Regions from separate parts of the Homo sapiens genome. Here region 1 is reported to be linked to region 2. The links are microRNA targets in miRTarBase. Many come from high-throughput screens and were not tested one by one. Region 2 holds a microRNA gene; the other region holds the end of a gene's coding sequence.

Region 1 (8,715 bases), not on the chromosome of region 2:
AGTGTTTTCGGCAGCTCGCGTATCTTGTTGAACATAAGAGGATTCACACCAAAGAAAAACCTTATAAATGTAGCAAATGTGAAAAAACGTTTAGTCAGAATTCAACCCTTATTCGACATCAGGTGATCCATAGTGGAGAAAAACGCCATAAATGCCTTGAGTGTGGAAAAGCCTTTGGCCGGCATTCAACCCTTCTATGTCATCAACAGATTCACAGTAAACCGAACACCCATAAATGCAGTGAATGTGGACAGTCCTTTGGTAGGAATGTGGATCTCATTCAGCATCAAAGAATCCATACAAAGGAGGAATTCTTTCAATGTGGAGAATGTGGGAAAACGTTTAGTTTTAAGAGGAATCTTTTTCGACATCAGGTCATTCACACTGGAAGCCAACCCTACCAATGTGTCATATGTGGAAAATCTTTCAAGTGGCACACAAGCTTTATTAAGCACCAGGGCACTCACAAAGGACAGATATCCACATGATGTTAATTGGAAAGCAGTCATTGGAGAACTAGAACTTATAAACCTCTACTTCAAGTGTGTATCACGTAATTGTTTCCATGAAAAGCAATAAATGTAACAAAGGGTTTTTCTATGGGAGCCATCTTTGTGTAGCCAATCTGTAGTGAAGAAACGCTTAAAAGGAAATGTTAGCTTGGGCAACACAGTGAGATCCCATCTCTACAAAAAATAACAAAGCCAGGTGTGGTGGCTCACACCTCCAGTCCCAGCTACTAAGAAGGCTGGGTGACAGAGTGAGGCTGTCTCAAAAAAAAAAAAGAAAGGGCTGGGCGCGGTGGCTCACGCCTGTAATCCCAGCACTTTGGGAGGCCGAGGTGGGCGGATCACGAGGTCAGGAGATCAAGACCATCCTGGCTAACACAGTGAAACCCCGTTTCCACTAAAAAATCAAAAAATTAGCCGGGTGTGGTGGCAGGCGCCTGTAGTCCCAGCTATGCGGGAGGCTGAGGCAGGAGAATGGCGTGAACCCAGGAGGCGGAGCTTGCAGTGAGCTGAGATCGTGCCACTGCACTCCAGCCTGGGCGACAGAGCGAGACTCCGTCTCAAAAAAAAAAAAAAAAAAAAAACAGAGAAAAGGTTATTAGGCTGTTGTGTCCACTCTCTTGCACCCTCTATGCCCTCATTCCCTCCAGCCTAGTTAAGGCAGAAGGGAGCCATAGAAGCTGTGCCGTGTGGTTGCCAGGCTGGGGACCATTGCATGGGTTGTGAATGATTGAAGGTTTGAAGACAGCCAGTATGGTGTCGCATGTCTGTAATCCCAGCACTTTGGGAGGCTGAGGCTGGAGAATCACTTGAGGTCAGTTCAAGACCAGCCTGGCCAACATGGTGAAACCCCGTCTCTACTGAAAATACAAAAATTAGCTGTTTGGGAGGCTGAGGCAGGAGAATCGCTTGGACCTGGGAGGTGGAGGTTGCAGTGAGCCAAGAACACACCACTGCACTCCAGCCTCAGCAACAGAGTGAGACTCCATCTCAAAAAAAAAAAAAGATTGAAGAATGCCTTTCCTGTATTACATACAACTATTACATGCTAACGTATAGACTTAAAAAACAAAACAAAACTAAGGGCTACTCACTAGTAACTAGTGAGGTATGAAGAACTAAAAGTTGCCCATAATCAGGCCGGGCATGGTGGCTCACACCTGTAATCCCAGCACTTTGGGAGGCCAAGGCGGGTGGGTCACAAGGTCAGGAGTTCAGGACAAGCCTAGCCAAGATGGTGAAACCCCGTCTCTACTAAAAATACAAAATTTAGCCAGGCACAGTGGTGGGCGCCTATAATCCCAGCTGCTTGGGAGGCTGAGGTAGGAGAATCACCTACCTCAACCGGGAGGCAGAGGTTGCAGTGAGCTGAGATTGCGCCACTGCACTCCAGCCTGGGCGACAGACCAAGACTCCATCTCAAAAAAAAAAAAAAAAAAAAGTTGCCCATAATCTAAAATGAGTATGTTAGATTCTGATAAGAGTTGTAAGTCAGCCCGGCGCAGTGGCTCACGCCTGTAATCCCAGCACTTTGGGAGGCTGAGGCGAGTGGATCACGAGGTCAGGAGTTTGAGACCAGCCTGGCCAATATGGTGAAACCCCATCTCTACTAAAAAATACAAAAATTAGCCGAGCATGGTGGTGCGCGCCTGTAGTCCCAGCTACCCAGGAGGCTGAGGCAGGAGAATCGCTTGAACCTGGGAGGTAGAGGTTGCAGTGAGCTGAGATCATGCCACTGCACTCCAGCCTCGGTGACAGAGTAAGACTCCATCTCAAAAAAGAAAAAAAAAAAAAAAGAGTTGTAAGTCAATATTTGTAATAGGTGCCGTGGGCCCTGCCGAAGTCCCTCTGGCCTTACACCTTCTGTGGGCTTCATCTGACTGTGTCTGCACCTTGTGGCCTGTGGGGTAATAACACATTCTGGGAGCAGCTGTCAACCAATCATCGATGGGAATTTGATAAACACCAAATTCTCCATCTCCCCATGTGTGGAAAACTCTGAAGCATGTGTTTTAGTTTCCAGAGGTTCCCCATGAATTGCACACAGGCACTCACCCAAGGTAGATACCTCATTGGGTGACTTCCCTTCTGTCTCTTCCACCTTCCCTAATAGTGTTGCAACCTCTCCCCAACAAATAAACTACTTGTATTCAAAAAGTGTCAATTATGTTCTCTGAGAAGCCATATCCCTTCTGTTTCCACAATTATTCTAAGCACATTCTGACATTCAGTTTAAATAGGTTGAGCTGAGTGTATTCTCCCTAGAGCTCAACAATATAAGAGATCCATTTAAATTATTTGGATATCCTAAACATCATCCTATGTCTGTATTAAAAATTGCTCTAATTTGCCGGGCGTGGTGGTGGGCACCTATAATTCCAGCTACTCAGGAGGCTGAGACAGGAGAATTGCTTGAACCCGGGAGGTGGAGGTTGCAGGGAGCCAAGATTGCACCACTGCACTCCAGCCTGGGCGACAGAGTGAGACCCCGTGTCAAAAAAAACAAACAAATATTGCTCTCAGGCCAGGTGCACTGCGTCATGCCTGTAATCCCCAACACTTTGGGATGCTGAGGCAGGTGGATCACTTCAACCCAGGAGTTTGAGACCAGCCTGGCCAACATGGCAAAACCTCATCTTTTTTTTTTTTTTTTTTTTTTTTGAGATGGCGAGTCTCGCTCTGTTTTCCAGGCTGGAGTGCAGCGGTGAGATCTCAGCTCACTGCAACCTCCGCCTCCTGGGTTCAAGCGATTCTCCTGCATCAGCCTCCTGAGTAGCTGGGACTACAGGTGCCTGTCAGCATGCCCAGCTAATTTTTGTATTTTCAGTAGAGATGGGGTTTCGTTCGCCATGTTGGCCAGGCTGGTCTTGAATGCCTGACCTCGTGATCTGCCAGCCTTGGCCTCCCAGTGCTGGGCTTACAGGCGTGAACCACTGTGCCCAGCCTCTCTCATACTTTTAAAGTACAAAAATTAGCTGGGTGTGGTGGTTGTATGCCTGTAGTCCCAGCTGCTTGGGAGGCTGAGGTGGAAGGATCGCTTAAGCCCAGGAAGTTGAGGCTGCAAGTGAGCCAAGATCACACCACTGCACTCCAGACTGGGCGACAAAGTGAGACCTTTTTTTTTTTTTTTTTAAAAAAAAAGATAGTTTGTATTTACGATTCTCTCCAATGACCAGTTCAGACATTCAGGCACTTGTCACTCAGATTAATCCTCATGTTTAAAGAAGGTACAAACAGGAGAGAACTGTTTCTAATTCACTGAGCCACAGGGAACTGCCAAATCTAGAGAGACTCAGCCATAGAAAATGAACAGTCACATCCAAAGCGCAGCCATCCTGAGATGGCTTCAAACTTAGAGGGAGGTGTAGGTGCTGTCCAGGCCAGACACTCTTCAGTTTCCAAACAGTTCCTAGAGGAAGAGAAGCCACTATCACCCAGAAGCCACCTACACCCAGACTAGACCCGGGGCTCTGCCCTGTGTTTGTCAGGGGCCACTAGTGCCCTGACTGCTGTTTCCTGATGATATTCCTTCAAGCAGAGGCCTCTATTACACGTGCCCCAGCTCACCTACATCAGGGAGAGAGTGGTCTCCTGACCGTGATGGTGGGAGCCCCTAGTGGAGCTGAGCAGACACTCTCTTCCCTTCATTTTCACAGGACCTGGAAAGGACAACCACACTTGCTTTACTGGAGATGATTCTTATGTTCTATTTTATTCACTTCTGCAAGAAATACTCAAATTTTGTATAATAAGCCTTGTGATATCATGATAAATATGTATCTGGTCTTCATCCTCAATGACTAGCAGAGAGCTCCCCAAACCTTGGAGAATTCCTGAGGGATAAGGGTGCTAAGAGCATCTTTTCTTATCATATTTGGTCTTTGACACTTGTTCCTGACACAGAGCTGTTAAACCCATTGGAATTTCCTTAGTGATGCATGTCTTTGTTCTAATAAGGCAACTCTTGGATTTCCGATGGGTTCAGCTTGGGGGCTAACTGGAAAGACCAAGGCATGATTAGAAACTTGGAAGCTGAGGCGGGCGGACCACGAGGTCAGGAGATAGACACCATCTTGGCCAACATGGTGAAACCCTGTCTCTACTACACTACAAAAAATCAGCCGGGTGTGGTGGCGAGTGCCTGTGGTCTCAGCTACTCGGGAGGCTGAAGCAGGGGAATTGCTTGAACCTGGGAGGCGGAGGTTGCAGTGAGCCGATATCATGCCACTGCACTCCAGCCTGGGCGACAGAGAATCTGTCTCAAAAAAAAAAAAAAAAAAAAAAGCCAGGCACAGTGGCTCCAGCCTGTAATCCCAGCACTTTGGGAGGCCAAGGCGGGCGGATCATGAGGTCAGGAGATCCAGACCATCCTGGCTAACACAGTGAAACCCCATCTCTACTAAAAATACAAAAAATTAGCAAGGCATGGTGGGGGTGCATGTAGTCCCAGCTACTCAGGAGGCTGAGGCAGAAGAATGGCATGAACCCGGGAGGTGGAGTTTGTAGTGAGCCGAGATTGCGCCACTGCACTCCAGCCTGGGCGACAGAGCGAGACTCCGTCTCAAGAAAAAAAAAAAAAAAAAAAGAAATCAGCAAGTCATAAAACTGAACTCCTAGGCTCCTAGAATGGGAAAGAAAGAGGGACTATGCAAAATTAGGTTTTCTGGAAAGTGAAAAATAGAGTGCTTCTTTTGAGTACTGAGCTTTACCAGATCTTTTGGGGATTATGAAGTAGTTGAAACCCTCTCTACAATCTAAGGCCAAAGGCAAATTTTAAATGACTAAAATACATTCTTAGGCAAGTATTAATAATTGTAGTGAGCAAGATTTGGTTCAAAAGTGAATAAAAAGGCCGGGCATGGTGGCTCGTGTGTAATCCCAGCACTTTGGGAGGCTGAGGTGGGCGGACTGCCTGAGCTTAGGAGTTCACCACCAGCCTAGGCAACACAGTGAAACCCCATCTCTACTAAAATACAAAAAATTAGCTGGGCATGGCATGGTGCACCTGTAGTCCCAAGTACTTGGAAGGCTGAGGCAGGAGAATTGCTTGAATCCAGGAGGTGGAGGTTGCAGTGAGCCAAGATCATGCCACTACACTCCAGCCTGGGTGACAGAGCGAGACTCCATCTCAAAAAAAAAAAAAAAAAAAAAGTAAATAAAGGTAGGCTGGGTGTGGTGGCTTGTGTCTGTAATTCCAGCACTTTGGGAAGCTGAGGCAGGAGGATTCCTTGAGCCCAGGAGGTTGAGACCAGCCTGGGCAACATAGCAAGACCCTATCTCTTAAAAAAAAAAAAAAGCTGGGTGTGGTGGTGTGTGCCTGTGGTCCCAGCTACTCAGGAGGTTAAGGCAAGAGGATCACTTGAGCCCAGGAGGTTGAGGCCACAGTGAACCACGATCACACCACTGGGCTCCCGCTGGAGGGCTACGACGAGACCCAGTCTCAAAAATAATACATAAAGGTAGAGCGCAGATAACAAGGACAGAACCCCGTTACATGTCAGCCTGGCTCTTATCATCAGAAGTCTCTTACCTGGCATCAGCTCACATTTCAGAAGGCCCCCTACTTCCTCATTCCTCACTCACTGAAACTATCAGTCTGTAATGAGGCTCAGGACAGATTGAACCTATCTTGTAGGAGATACTCAAGGAAGATCCATAATTGACTGATATACTCCAAATGGCAAGGAATGTGGTTCTGGACAAGAAAAGAAACAGGCCAAGTCACATAGAAACATATCAAAATGACAGCACTTTATTTCTTTTTTGAGATGGAGTCTCGCTCTGTTGCCCAGGCTGGAGTGCAGTGGCATGATCTCAGCTCACTGCAACTTCCGCCTCCTGGGTTCAAGTGATTCTCCTACCTCAGCCTCCCGAATAGCTGGGCTTACAGGCATGCACCACCATGCCCGGCTCATTTTTGTATTTTTAGTAGAGACAGGATTTTACCATGTTGGCCAGGCTGGTTTCAAACTCCTGATCTCAAATGATCTGCCTGCCTTGGCCTCCCAAAGTGCTGGGATTATAGGCGTGAGCCACCACGCCCAGCCGACAGCACTTTATTTTGATGAATTCTTTGGTGTCGGATAAGGTGTGTACTTTGTCTAAATCTTTCCCCACATTCAAGACATTTGTAAGGCTTTTCCCCAGTGTGAATTCTCTGGTGTTTAATGAGGGTTGCACTCTGATTGAAGCGTTTCCCACAGACGGAACATCCATAGGGCTTCTCCCCAGTGTGGATTCTGTGGTGTTTAAAGAGGTCAGAGCGCTGTTTGAAGCTCTTCTCGCATTCTTCACACTTATAGGGTCTTTCCCCTTTATGTAGTCTCTGATGTCTAAAAAGGTTGGAAATATGACAGGTTTCCCCGCATTCCTCACATTTAAAATGTTTGTCTCTACTGTGGGTACTTTGATGACGATTTAGGTGTGAATTCTGCCTGAAGCGCTCCCCACATTTCAGACAGGTGTACGGCTTCTCGCCTGTGTGTGTCCTCTGGTGCTTGGTCAGGGCAGCACTCTGGCTGAAGCTTTTCCCACATTCTTGGCAGCCATAGGGTTTCTCACCTGTGTGGATTCTCTGGTGTCTAAAGAGGTCAGAGCGTTGTTTGAAACTCTTCCCACAGTTACCACATTTATAAGGTCTTTCTTCATGGAGCTGCCTCTGGGTCTCAAAAAGGCTGGAATGATGGAAACTGTCTCCACTGTCAGACTTGTGAGGTTTCAGCACGTGCCACGTCACCATGTGGAAACTTTGCTTGCACTTGTTCCCGTGTTCCTCACTGTCAGTGGGCCTCTCTGCTTTCGGGATGTGCTGACATAGAACAAGGTTGGAACACCTGGCACTGTTCTGCAATTCATTATTTTTAGAGTCTTCCCCTTCTATGGAACCATTCTTATTGACATCTGAGATGCTGTTGAGTCCTTCTGCTTCAGGAGAATTTTCAAGTTTCAGGGGCAAGGGGTCTCCGGACTGCTTTTCCACCCTGTCCTCATGGGTACTGCCACACTTAGAAAACAGGGGGCGCTTCCCCTGGAACGCTTCTTGTAGTTGCCCCTGTGGCTCCGCTTCTTCTAAAATTTGTTGCATTGGAATCAACTCTTTGTTCTCCACTCTGCTTTCCAAACCTGAAACGTGAAAATACAAATTCCTGCCAGTGCATCCCTGTGCAACACAGAAATAAGCAAGTGCTGGCAGAATGTTAAACCCTCAAACCCCTTTTACTTTTTAATTAATTAATTTATTTTTTGAGACGGTGTCTTGCTTTGTCACCAGGCTGGAGTGCAGTGGTCCGATCTCAGTTCACTGCAACCTCTGCCTCCCGAGTTCAACTGATTATCCTACCTCAGCCTCCCAAGTAGCTGGCATTACAAGTGCACGCCACCACACCCAGCTAATTTTTGTATTTTTATTAGAGATGGGGTTTCACCATGTTGGCCAGGATGGTCTCTATCTCTTGACCTCATGATCCGCTCGCCTCAGCCTCCCTATTTATTTATTTTGAGACAGAGTATTACTCTGTTGCTATTTATTTATTTTGAGATGGAGTCTCACTCTGTTGCCCAGGCTGGAGTGCAGTGGCATGATCTCGGCTCACTGCAACCTCTGCCACCTGGGTTCAAGTGATTCTCCTGCCTCAGCCTCCCAAGTAGCAGGGATTACAGGTGCTAATTTTGCTAGTTTTAGTAGAGACAGTGTTTCACCATATTGGCCAGGCTGGTCTTGAACTCCTGACCTCGTGATCCGCCTGCCTCGGCCTCCCAGACTTCTGGGATTACAGGCGTGAGCCACAGCACCCAGCCTATATTTTATTTTATCGTATCTTATTTTATTTTTGAGATGGAGTCTTGCTCTGTTGCCTAGGCTGGAGTGCAGTGGCATGATCTCAGCTCACTGCAACCTCTGCCTCCCAGGTTCAAGTGATTCTCCTGCCTCAGCCTCCCAAGTAGCTGGGATTACAGGCACCCACCACCACACCCGGCTAATTTTTTTGTATTTTTAGTGGGGACGAGGTTTCACCATCTTGGCCAGGATGGTCTCGAACTCCTCTGACCTTGTTATCCACCCCCCTCGGCCTTGCAAAGTGTTGCGATTACAGGCGTGAGCCACCACACCCAGCTATTTTATTTTTTTGAGATGGAGTTTCGCTCTTGTTGCCAAGGCTGGAGTGCAGTGGAGTGATCTCAGCTCACTGCAACCTCTGCCCCCCAG
Region 2 (8,715 bases):
TGGCCCTCTTTGATCTATTTTGAGTTAATTTTTGTATATGGTATAAGGTAAGGATCCAACTCCATTCTTTTGCCTGTGGATATCCAGTTTTCTCAGCACCATTTGTTGAAAAGATTATCCTTTCCCACATTAAATGATCTTGGCAACCTTGTCAAAAATCATTTAACCATATATGCGAGGGTTTATTTCTGGACTCTGTATTCCATTCCATTGCTCTTTATGTCTGTTTTAATGTCAGTACCACACTGCTTTGATTGCTGTAGCTTTTTTTTTTTTAATTTTTTTTTTATTTGAGATGGAGTCTTGCTCTGCTGCCCAGGCGGGAGTGCAGTGGTGCAATCTCAGCTCACTGCGACCTCTGCCTCTCGGGTTCAAGCGATTCTCCTGCCTCAGCCTCCTGAGTAGCTGGGATTACAGGCGCCTGCCATGAGGCCCGGCTAATTTTTGTATTTTTAGTAGAGATGGGGTTTCGTCACGTTGGCCAGGGTGGCCTCAAACTTCTGACCTCAGGTGATCCGCCTGCCTCGGCCTCCCAAAGTGCTGGGATTACAGGCATGAGCCACCGCGCCTGGCCAATTGCTGTAGCTTTTTAGTGAGTTTTGAAATCAGGAAGTGTGAGACCTTCAGTCTTTCAAGACTGTTTTAGCTATGTGGTGTCCCTTGATATGGATTTTTCTATTTCTTTAGAAAATGTCATTGGGATTTTGTTAGGCATTGCATTGAATCTGTAGATCACTTTGGGTAGTACTGACACCTTATCAATATTAAATCTTCTAATCCATGAACATGGAATGTCTTTCCATTTATTGGTGTCATCTTTAATTTCTTTCACCAATATCTTGTAGTTTTTAGCATACAATATTTAACCTTTGTTAAGTTTATTCCTCGGTACTTTATTCTTTTTGATGCTATTGTAAATGGAATTATTTTCTTAATTTCCTTTTTGGATTGTTTATTGTTAGTTGTAGAAATGTAACCGATTTTTGTGTGTTCATTTTGTATCCTTCAACTTTGCTGAATTTATTAGTTCTAATTGCCCTGCTTTTAAAATCAAATTAATTCCAACATTCAAATCTTAATTAAATTCACATAAAACTCTAGACTTCCTTTTTGTCATAAAATATTGGAAGATGTGGCACCTCTGAGCTGACATTCCCACATGGCACCCACCGCTTGAGGTCTAGTGGCAGCTCCTGCCTTTGGTGGAGGTGACCATCCTTTAGCACGCTCCAGCCCCACCACCCTTTCTGTCTCTGCTTACCAACCTCATCCACAAGTTCTGCTCTGGCTGGCCCCTCATGCATTCAGCATTCTTCCTACAGGTACTTACTGAACACCTACTGTGTACCAGGCACTGTTCCAGGCACTGGGAGTACAGTGCTGAACACAACAGACAAAAATCCCTGCCTTCGCATATATCATCTCGTTTAATCCTCGAGACAGCTTCCATGAGGTAGCCTCATTATACAAATAAGGAAACTAAGAGACATAGAGAACTTAAGAGACTTGTCCAAGGTTACCCAGCAGGTAAGGGGATGTCTGGATTAGAACCTGGGCAGCCTGGCTTTAGAATTCGAATTGTCAGCTGCTATTACTGCCCATCAGTGGCGGAAGGACCCAGAGGTGAAGACTTGGCAACAGAGGCAGGGTGGCGTGGACAGGGGACAGATAGGCCTGGCCGGTGGTCATACAGCCAGGATCAGGCCTTCTGTGGGCTCCACAGGGTGTGCTCCCAGGGCCGCCCCGCTGGCCTCTGGGCTGAGTTTCCTTGAGGTTGTCTGGATCCCAGACCCTCTGGCCTTCCCAGCTCAGCAGCTTCAGCCTGGGAGAGCCCGCTTTTCCTCAGCAGACAGCTGATGATCGTTGACTGGGCTTGGTGGGAGGTAAGGAGGTAACCAGCAGGTTTTCTTTCTGTGATGGTAAGAGGCCGCCTTGGAAGCAGACAGCTGAGAAAACACAAAGACCTGGGCTGGCTGGCCCCACCCTTGGTCGAGCCGCTTCTGCCTGTGAAGTGTAAATGCAGGTGGTGTCAAGCCGGCAGACAGGCCCAGCTCCCTCTTCCCCTTGAGCAGGCAGGGTGACGCCCCCTGCAGCAGGCCCGTGATTCAGTTGCTCTGGCTGATGAGGAGCCTGGGCCCGGGAGGAGTGTCGCACAGCCCCAGCCTGGTCCGTCCTCAGCCCTGGATTGACGTCCATGCTGTCCTGGGACCGTTTCAGCCGCCTAGTGGGGAGTCTGCTTTCTCCTCCGTCCTGTGTCTTGGGCTCAGGCATGTGCCTGCTGCCCCTTTGTGGCCACAAGTATGTATCGGGCCCAGGGTGGCACTCGGGACCCTCCCCTGTTGGGCTTAGAGACATGGACGGCCCTTGCTGGCTGGAAGCTGCGGTGAGTGTGTGAAGGGCCCTCAGTCTTCCCTGAGGAAGGCCCTGCCTGCTCTTGGCTCTCACTGCTCCCAGGCCATCTTCCATCCGCTTTCCCCAGGTGCCTCCGTTTCTCTCTGACTTCTTGCCTGTTTTCCCTAACTCTGAGAGATTGCCTGCCTTCAAGTGCAGGAGAAAGCAGACATCTTCCCTACAAGCCCGAGACCTAGCCCCCAGTAGAGCTGGCCAACCACCTGCCACGGAGCAGGCCACTGGTGCCTTGGCCAGAGTGCTCGTGGTGCCAGTCTGCTGCGTCTCAGTCACATTCCCCCTGCTTTGCTGCCCTCAAGAAGCCAGAGATGACCTAGTGTCTGACACCTCTGAACAAAGGGGCCTTTAGAGCCCCTTCCTCAACTCCCTCACCATCCCCCATGCTCCCCAGCCTGCCCTGGTTGCGGTTGCGGCCACTTCCTTTTGGGTGCCCCTCTGAGATTCTGGACAGAGCCCAGGAGCCCCCAGGTTCCCATTGTGATGCAAGGACAGAACAGAACCCTGGGCCGCAGGCAGGTGGCTGGTGGGTATCCCGCCTCCCACCCCCAGCAAACACTGGCAAACCCCACTCTCCCTGCATCAGGGTCTGAGTGCCTGGCAGGGGCGGCAGTGGAGATGATCAAGGTTAGTGCGCCCAGCCCCATGCTGAGGCAGCAGCCTTTCTGGGGAGGGAGGGGGCGTGGAAGGAGACTTCAACCTTTTGAAGAGGAAGTCAGTTCACTTATGTCAGGGTAGGGAGAGTAGGAATTACGTATTCTTTGAGACTGAAAAATTACTGGCCGGGCGCAGGGGCTCACAACGGTAATCCCAGCACTTTGGGAGGCTGAGGCGGGAAGACTGCTTGAGGCCAGGAATTCAAGGCCAGCTTGGGCAAAATGGCAAGACCCTTCTATACATTAAAAAAAAAAAAAAAATTAGCCGGGCGTGATGGTATGTGCTTGTAGTCCCAGCTACTCGGGAGGCTGAGATGGGAGGATGGCTTGAGTCCAGGAGGTCTAGGCTGCAGTGAGCCTAGATCGAGGCACTGCACTCCAGCCTGGGTGACAGAGTGAGACCCTGTCTCAAAAAGAAAAAAAAAAATTACTGAAAAGCATAAAGATTTTGTCAACTATAATTCCACAGCCCAGAGACCCCCACTTTTTAGTGCTGTACACTTAATGGTTTTTCAGATGTTTCTTGGACTTAATATGTTGATGAGCCTTTCCCCATGACATTTAAAACTCCTGATAAACATGAATGTAATGATGACAGAATAGTCTATGTACTATATATACACATTGTAATTCACCTGCCCACTCCTCTAAGGGTGCTTATTCAGGGTATTCTCAATTTTAGGACGAAAGCAGAAAGGCTGCCTCATGCAAACTGTCCCTACTCCCACCCAGGGGCCAAAGGACTTGAGCCGTCCTCTCATCAGGCACTGAGCGGGCAGAGAAGTGGCACAAGCTCTGCCTCCCTGCCTGGCCCGTGGCCCAGCGTGTTGCTAGGAAGGAATGTGTTTGTGCAGGTGGCGGCAGAGCTGACCTCCAGGGGTCTGGCCCTTGGGTCACCTGCTTGTCCCCCAGGAGGCCTGGCTGGGCCCCCAGCCTTTCACCTGGGTCTTGCATCTTGGAATCCCCCTGCCCCACCAAGAGCAGGCAGTGCCAGCTCCCTGGCCTTTTCCTCAGAGGTGGGGGTGGATCCCTTGGTCCACTTCCTCCCTGACCACTCAGAGCTGGCCTAGCTGCTGTGAGTCAGCCGTTCTCTCCCACCCTGGGAGACAGGGACCTCCGAGGCCGAACACTACCTTGTTTGATGACACAGACTTGTTTGATGACATCTCAACCATGTAAAGTAGGGAGATTTTACACACACCCCCAAAATCCAAATGTCCGGCCTGTCTTAACTATGGCTGATGCATGCTGCTGAGTGCTAAGGGGGCGGACTCTAAGCCTCTATTTTTATTTTATTTTTTTTAGACAGCCTCGCTCTGTCACCCTGGGGTACAGTGATGCTATCATAGCTTACTGCAGCTTCAAACTCCTGGGCTCAGGTGATCTCCCACCTAACCCCCCGGATTACAGCTGGGATTATAAGCGTGCACTGGTGCACTCGGCTGAGTTTTGAAACTTTTTGTAGAGATGGGGTCTTGCTGTGTTGCTCAGGCTGGCCTAGGCCTCTCTTGAAAGATGAGAATTTTGGCGATGCTGGGTGTGCGTTCTCACCTCCTGTCGTCCGAGGAGAGTACGTGGTGGCCGCCTTCTTAAAGGGTTCTTGGGAGCCAAGCCCTGCACAGCCCCTCACCTGCCTTACCTGGCTGTCCCCTGTAATCAGTGGACGTTGTTGCCTATCATTTAGTAATGAGAACCCAGCTGTGTAAACCTCCTAAACCACCACACAGGAATCTGGCTCTTAGCGCACCTTTCCCGAGGTGGGGGTTGCTCACCACAGGACGTTCTGCAAGAAAAGTACTAAACATGCCCTGACGGAAGCTGGAGCCAAAGTCTGTGTCTGTGAATTGTTTCCTGAGAGAGGTTTCTGGGGGTGGGCTGATGTGAGACCAGGGTCTAGGGCCTTGGGAGGGGATGGGTGGCTGGAGGACAGCGCCGGGGAAGGGTTGCTCCCCTGGGATCTGCCCTCATGGGACTGGCACCATGATGGTGTCCCCTCTTCTGGGGTCCGGATAAGCTAGGTAACCGTGGCTTCCTCATGGGGTGCACACCCCCTTCCCCCTATAAGAGCCTTGGCTGCCACAGCTTTCCTGCAAGGCAGATTGGGAGCAGGGGTGGACACAGGTTCTGAGTGTGCCCTGACCACTGGCAGACCCATCTCCACAGGCTGACTTGCCAGAGACCACCCCAAGTGGAAAATTCTGGGGGCTGGGCCAGGGTGGATCTAGGGCTCGGAGGACCTGGAGTATGTACCATCTGGGGGCCCTTTTAAAGAGAGAGAACATAAAATTACATAGACACAGGCAGGTACAGGACTTTGGGAGGGGCTCGTGTAGTGAGGGGTCCTGAGGGTGGGCTGCCGTTGGGTGGGCCCAGGGGGCATCGGGGTGGCCTTGGTTGCACTTGCCCTCTGGGCTTTCCTGAAGAGCTGGGGTTGGCTCTGTCCTGTGGAGGGAGAGGGTGCGGGAGGCTGTCAGCACCAGCCCAGGTTTCTCTCACCTGAAGTCCCAGGTGTGATGGGATGCTTGAACATAGGGGAACCTAAGGCCACAGCCTTAGAAGAAGCCACAGCCACATCAGTCATCCCTGGTGCTGGGCAGGAGGCCTGGGTGTAGGCTGGAGCTGAGGACTGAGGCTCACCTTGCTCCTGACTCTGTGCCCACAGGTAGAACACCTGAAGGAGAAGCTCATTAGCCAGGCCCAGGAAGTGAGCCGACTGCGATCTGAGCTGGTGAGGCCACAAGGCTGTCCTGGGGTAGCGCAGGGCCTGGCCTGCCTTGTGCAGATGGGCCCTGCCAGGGGCAGGGGTGCGACCCTCTCTCTCCTGAGCCCGCATATCCCACCCTGTCTCAGAAACACACCGAGAGCCTTATCCCCACCTCCTAGTACCCTCAGAGGCCTTGTGGCTCCAGGGGGTGGGAGGTTCCTTCTCTGTTGCTGACATTAAACGGGAGTGTGAACCCTGGTATAAATATGTCTCTCCTTGTGACTTTCACACTCAGAATAGGGTGGGGGCAGCAGGGAGAGCAGGCTCTGGGTCACCACCCTTCTCAACTCTGCCCTCCACTGTCTTTCTCTTGGTTTCTCTCTTGAGCTTGTTCCCTCCTCTCTTGCCCTTGCCTTTTTCTTTTTCTTTTTCTCCTTCCCTCTGCCTTTCTCCACACCTCTCCTCTCTTCCCTGCCCTTGTGCCATCTCCGCGGGCCTCTCTTCTTTCCCCCGTCATCTGCCCTCGCCACATGCGCCCCCTCGGCCCTGGCTCTCTGCAGGGGGGCACCGACTTGGAGAAGCACCGGGACCTGCTGATGGTGGAGAATGAGCGACTGAGGCAGGAGATGCGGCGCTGTGAGGCCGAGCTGCAAGAGCTGCGCACAAAGCCAGCAGGTCCCTGCCCAGGTTGTGAGCACAGCCAGGTGAGCAGAATGGCCGTGGTCCCCATGCTGGTCCTGGAGGGCCACCCCAGCTCCTCACAGTGAGCCTGTCCCTTGCACTCATCCAGTGCCTCCCAATGGCTGCAGGAGAGCGCCCAGCTCCGTGACAAGCTGTCCCAGCTGCAGCTGGAGATGGCGGAAAGCAAAGGCATGCTGTCAGAGCTGAACCTAGAGGTGCAGCAGAAGACCGACCGGCTGGCTGAGGTGGAGCTGCGACTCAAGGACTGCCTGGCTGAGAAGGCACAGGAGGAGGAGCGGCTTAGTCGGCGCCTGCGTGACAGCCACGAGACCATTGCCAGCCTGCGGGCCCAGTCCCCACCTGTCAAGGTGAGCCCTGGCCCACCTGATCTGTGCCTCAGCCCAAGGCCCCTGGCACCTGGGGCAGGGCTAGCCCATAAGGGGGGCTTGTCCTGGTGAATAGGTAGGTGTGTGTGGGTGGAAGAATCATTCCAGTTCTGTGCTTGGTCCTGCCCCTTCCCCTTCCTGTATCCAGGGCCAGGCACCGAGTAGGTATCCAACAGCTGAGGTGCCAGGCACAGATGCAGCGCAGCCCCTGGATTCTGCCCTCGTCTTTTTGCCTTTCTTGTCTGTACCCAGGATGGGGCCCCAGCCAGGCTCATAGTAGCCTCTTGTTAAGCTGAGAAGGTTCCAGGAGACCCCCCCAGCTTTCTGGAAAGCCAGGACCTCAAGGCTCCTCTAGTTTTTTTCTGGTTTCTGAGTGGGATGTTCCCGAGAGTTCCTTCCCCTGGCCTGCTGCGTCTCAGGCTCTTGGGTGAGGTACGGTGCCCGCTGGCTCCACGTGCCATTCCTCCCTCACCCTGCAGTATGTCATCAAGACAGTGGAGGTGGAGTCGTCCAAGACCAAGCAGGCCCTCAGCGAGTCCCAGGCCCGGAACCAGCACCTGCAGGAGCAGGTGGCTATGCAGAGGCAGGTGCTGAAGGAGATGGAACAGCAGCTGCAGAGCTCACACCAGCTGACCGCGCGGCTCCGGGCGCAGGTACCCAGGCTGTGTGGGGGCACATGCCCAGCCAGGAAGCCAGAGGCAGGCCCTTGGGCCAATGCATCGGTTAAACATTTGGGTACCCCACAGACACGGGGTCCAGTCCCTCCTCTCCCCGATGGCCACGGGACCCAGGGCAAGTTTTGTCTGGTTTCCTTTTCCTCATCTATTATAACACGATCTGGTCCCAGAACCCACCTCACAGTGGGGACTCAGGAACGTCATCCCAAGAAGCTTTGTGCCCACGGCCCAGCACACAGGCTGTGCTCAGTAAGCTCTACATGGCACTTGTCACTGTCATCACAGAGGCCCTCTCCTACCTTCCTGAGGGCACGTGGCTTGGGCACCTGATGTGTGCTCAGCACTGGGTTGGTGTTGGAGCCAATGCCCAGAGCTCACAGCCCTGTAGGGGGAGGGAGACAAGGCCATTCTGCCCCTCTGGGTGTGCACATGTGTGTGTGCATGTGTGTTCATGTGCATGGGAGGTGACCAGTTTCTTTCTCGGTGTGGCACCTGCCCCTCTCTCTCCCGCACCTCGAGGTACTGAGCCTTTTCCTGGTCTGGCCAGATTGCCATGTACGAGTCAGAGCTGGAGCGGGCCCATGGGCAGATGCTGGAGGAGATGCAGTCCCTGGAAGAGGACAAGAACCGGGCCATTGAGGAGGCCTTTGCCAGAGCCCAGGTGGAGATGAAGGCTGTGCACGAGAATCTAGCAGGTGAGCTGACCAGCTGGGCCCTGTCTGCCCCACGCCGCGGCCCCTCATCCCCTCCCGCCTCACAGCCCGAGTGTCCCCATAGGCGTCCGGACCAACTTGCTGACCTTGCAGCCGGCACTGCGGACCCTCACCAACGACTACAATGGGCTCAAGCGGCAGGTGCGCGGCTTCCCACTGCTGCTGCAGGAGGCCCTCAGGAGTGTCAAGGCCGAGGTGAGCGAGGGCAGTGGGTGGGAGGGTCCAGGCTAAGGGGGTGCACTGGGAGAGGCACGACATCCACTCAGGGCGTCCCTCCAAAGCTCAGACAAAGCCGCTCAGACAGCAGCCCCTGCCCCACCCCCCATGACACTTACTGCTGCCCTTATAGGCCCTGTTTGAAACTAGACTGCTCAGGGCAGGCATTCGGCTATTTGTCTTACTATGATTCTTTAAACCAAACATGTTACAGATAACTTCATATTTCAAACATGCAGGCCAGGCGCGGTGGCTCACACCTGTAATTCCAACACT

What was found. The annotated mature microRNA hsa-miR-6772-5p reads UGGGUGUAGGCUGGAGCUGAGG and lies in region 2 at 5,666-5,687, shown strand. An mRNA with a match to its seed (bases 2 to 7 or 8) in the 3' UTR can be bound and repressed. Matches are read on the target gene's strand: a 7mer-m8 pairs with bases 2 to 8, a 7mer-A1 pairs with bases 2 to 7 and ends in A, and an 8mer does both.
Region 1: miRTarBase lists ZNF394 as a target of hsa-miR-6772-5p. The part of its 3' UTR that is shown has no 7-base or 8-base seed match.

Annotation. Positions count from the first base shown.
Region 1 is chr7:99,487,001-99,495,715 of GRCh38, forward strand. ZNF394 (zinc finger protein 394) reads right to left here. Exons shown (of 3, transcript NM_032164.4): 3 at 6,240-7,631. The coding sequence ends at 6,529. It overlaps ZNF789 (zinc finger protein 789), which reads left to right. Exons shown (of 5, transcript NM_213603.3): 5 at 1-605. The coding sequence ends at 488. Among named protein-coding and RNA genes, the nearest start is that of ZNF394, 8.9 kb to the right of the region's middle.
Region 2 is chr16:57,769,298-57,778,012 of GRCh38, reverse strand. MIR6772 (microRNA 6772) reads left to right here and starts at 5,661; the gene lies at 5,661-5,724. It overlaps KIFC3 (kinesin family member C3), which reads left to right. Exons shown (of 20, transcript NM_001130100.2): 4 at 5,725-5,790; 5 at 6,327-6,470; 6 at 6,576-6,815; 7 at 7,313-7,486; 8 at 8,058-8,205; 9 at 8,288-8,418. RefSeq lists enhancers at 1,636-2,214, 2,183-2,242, 2,793-3,371.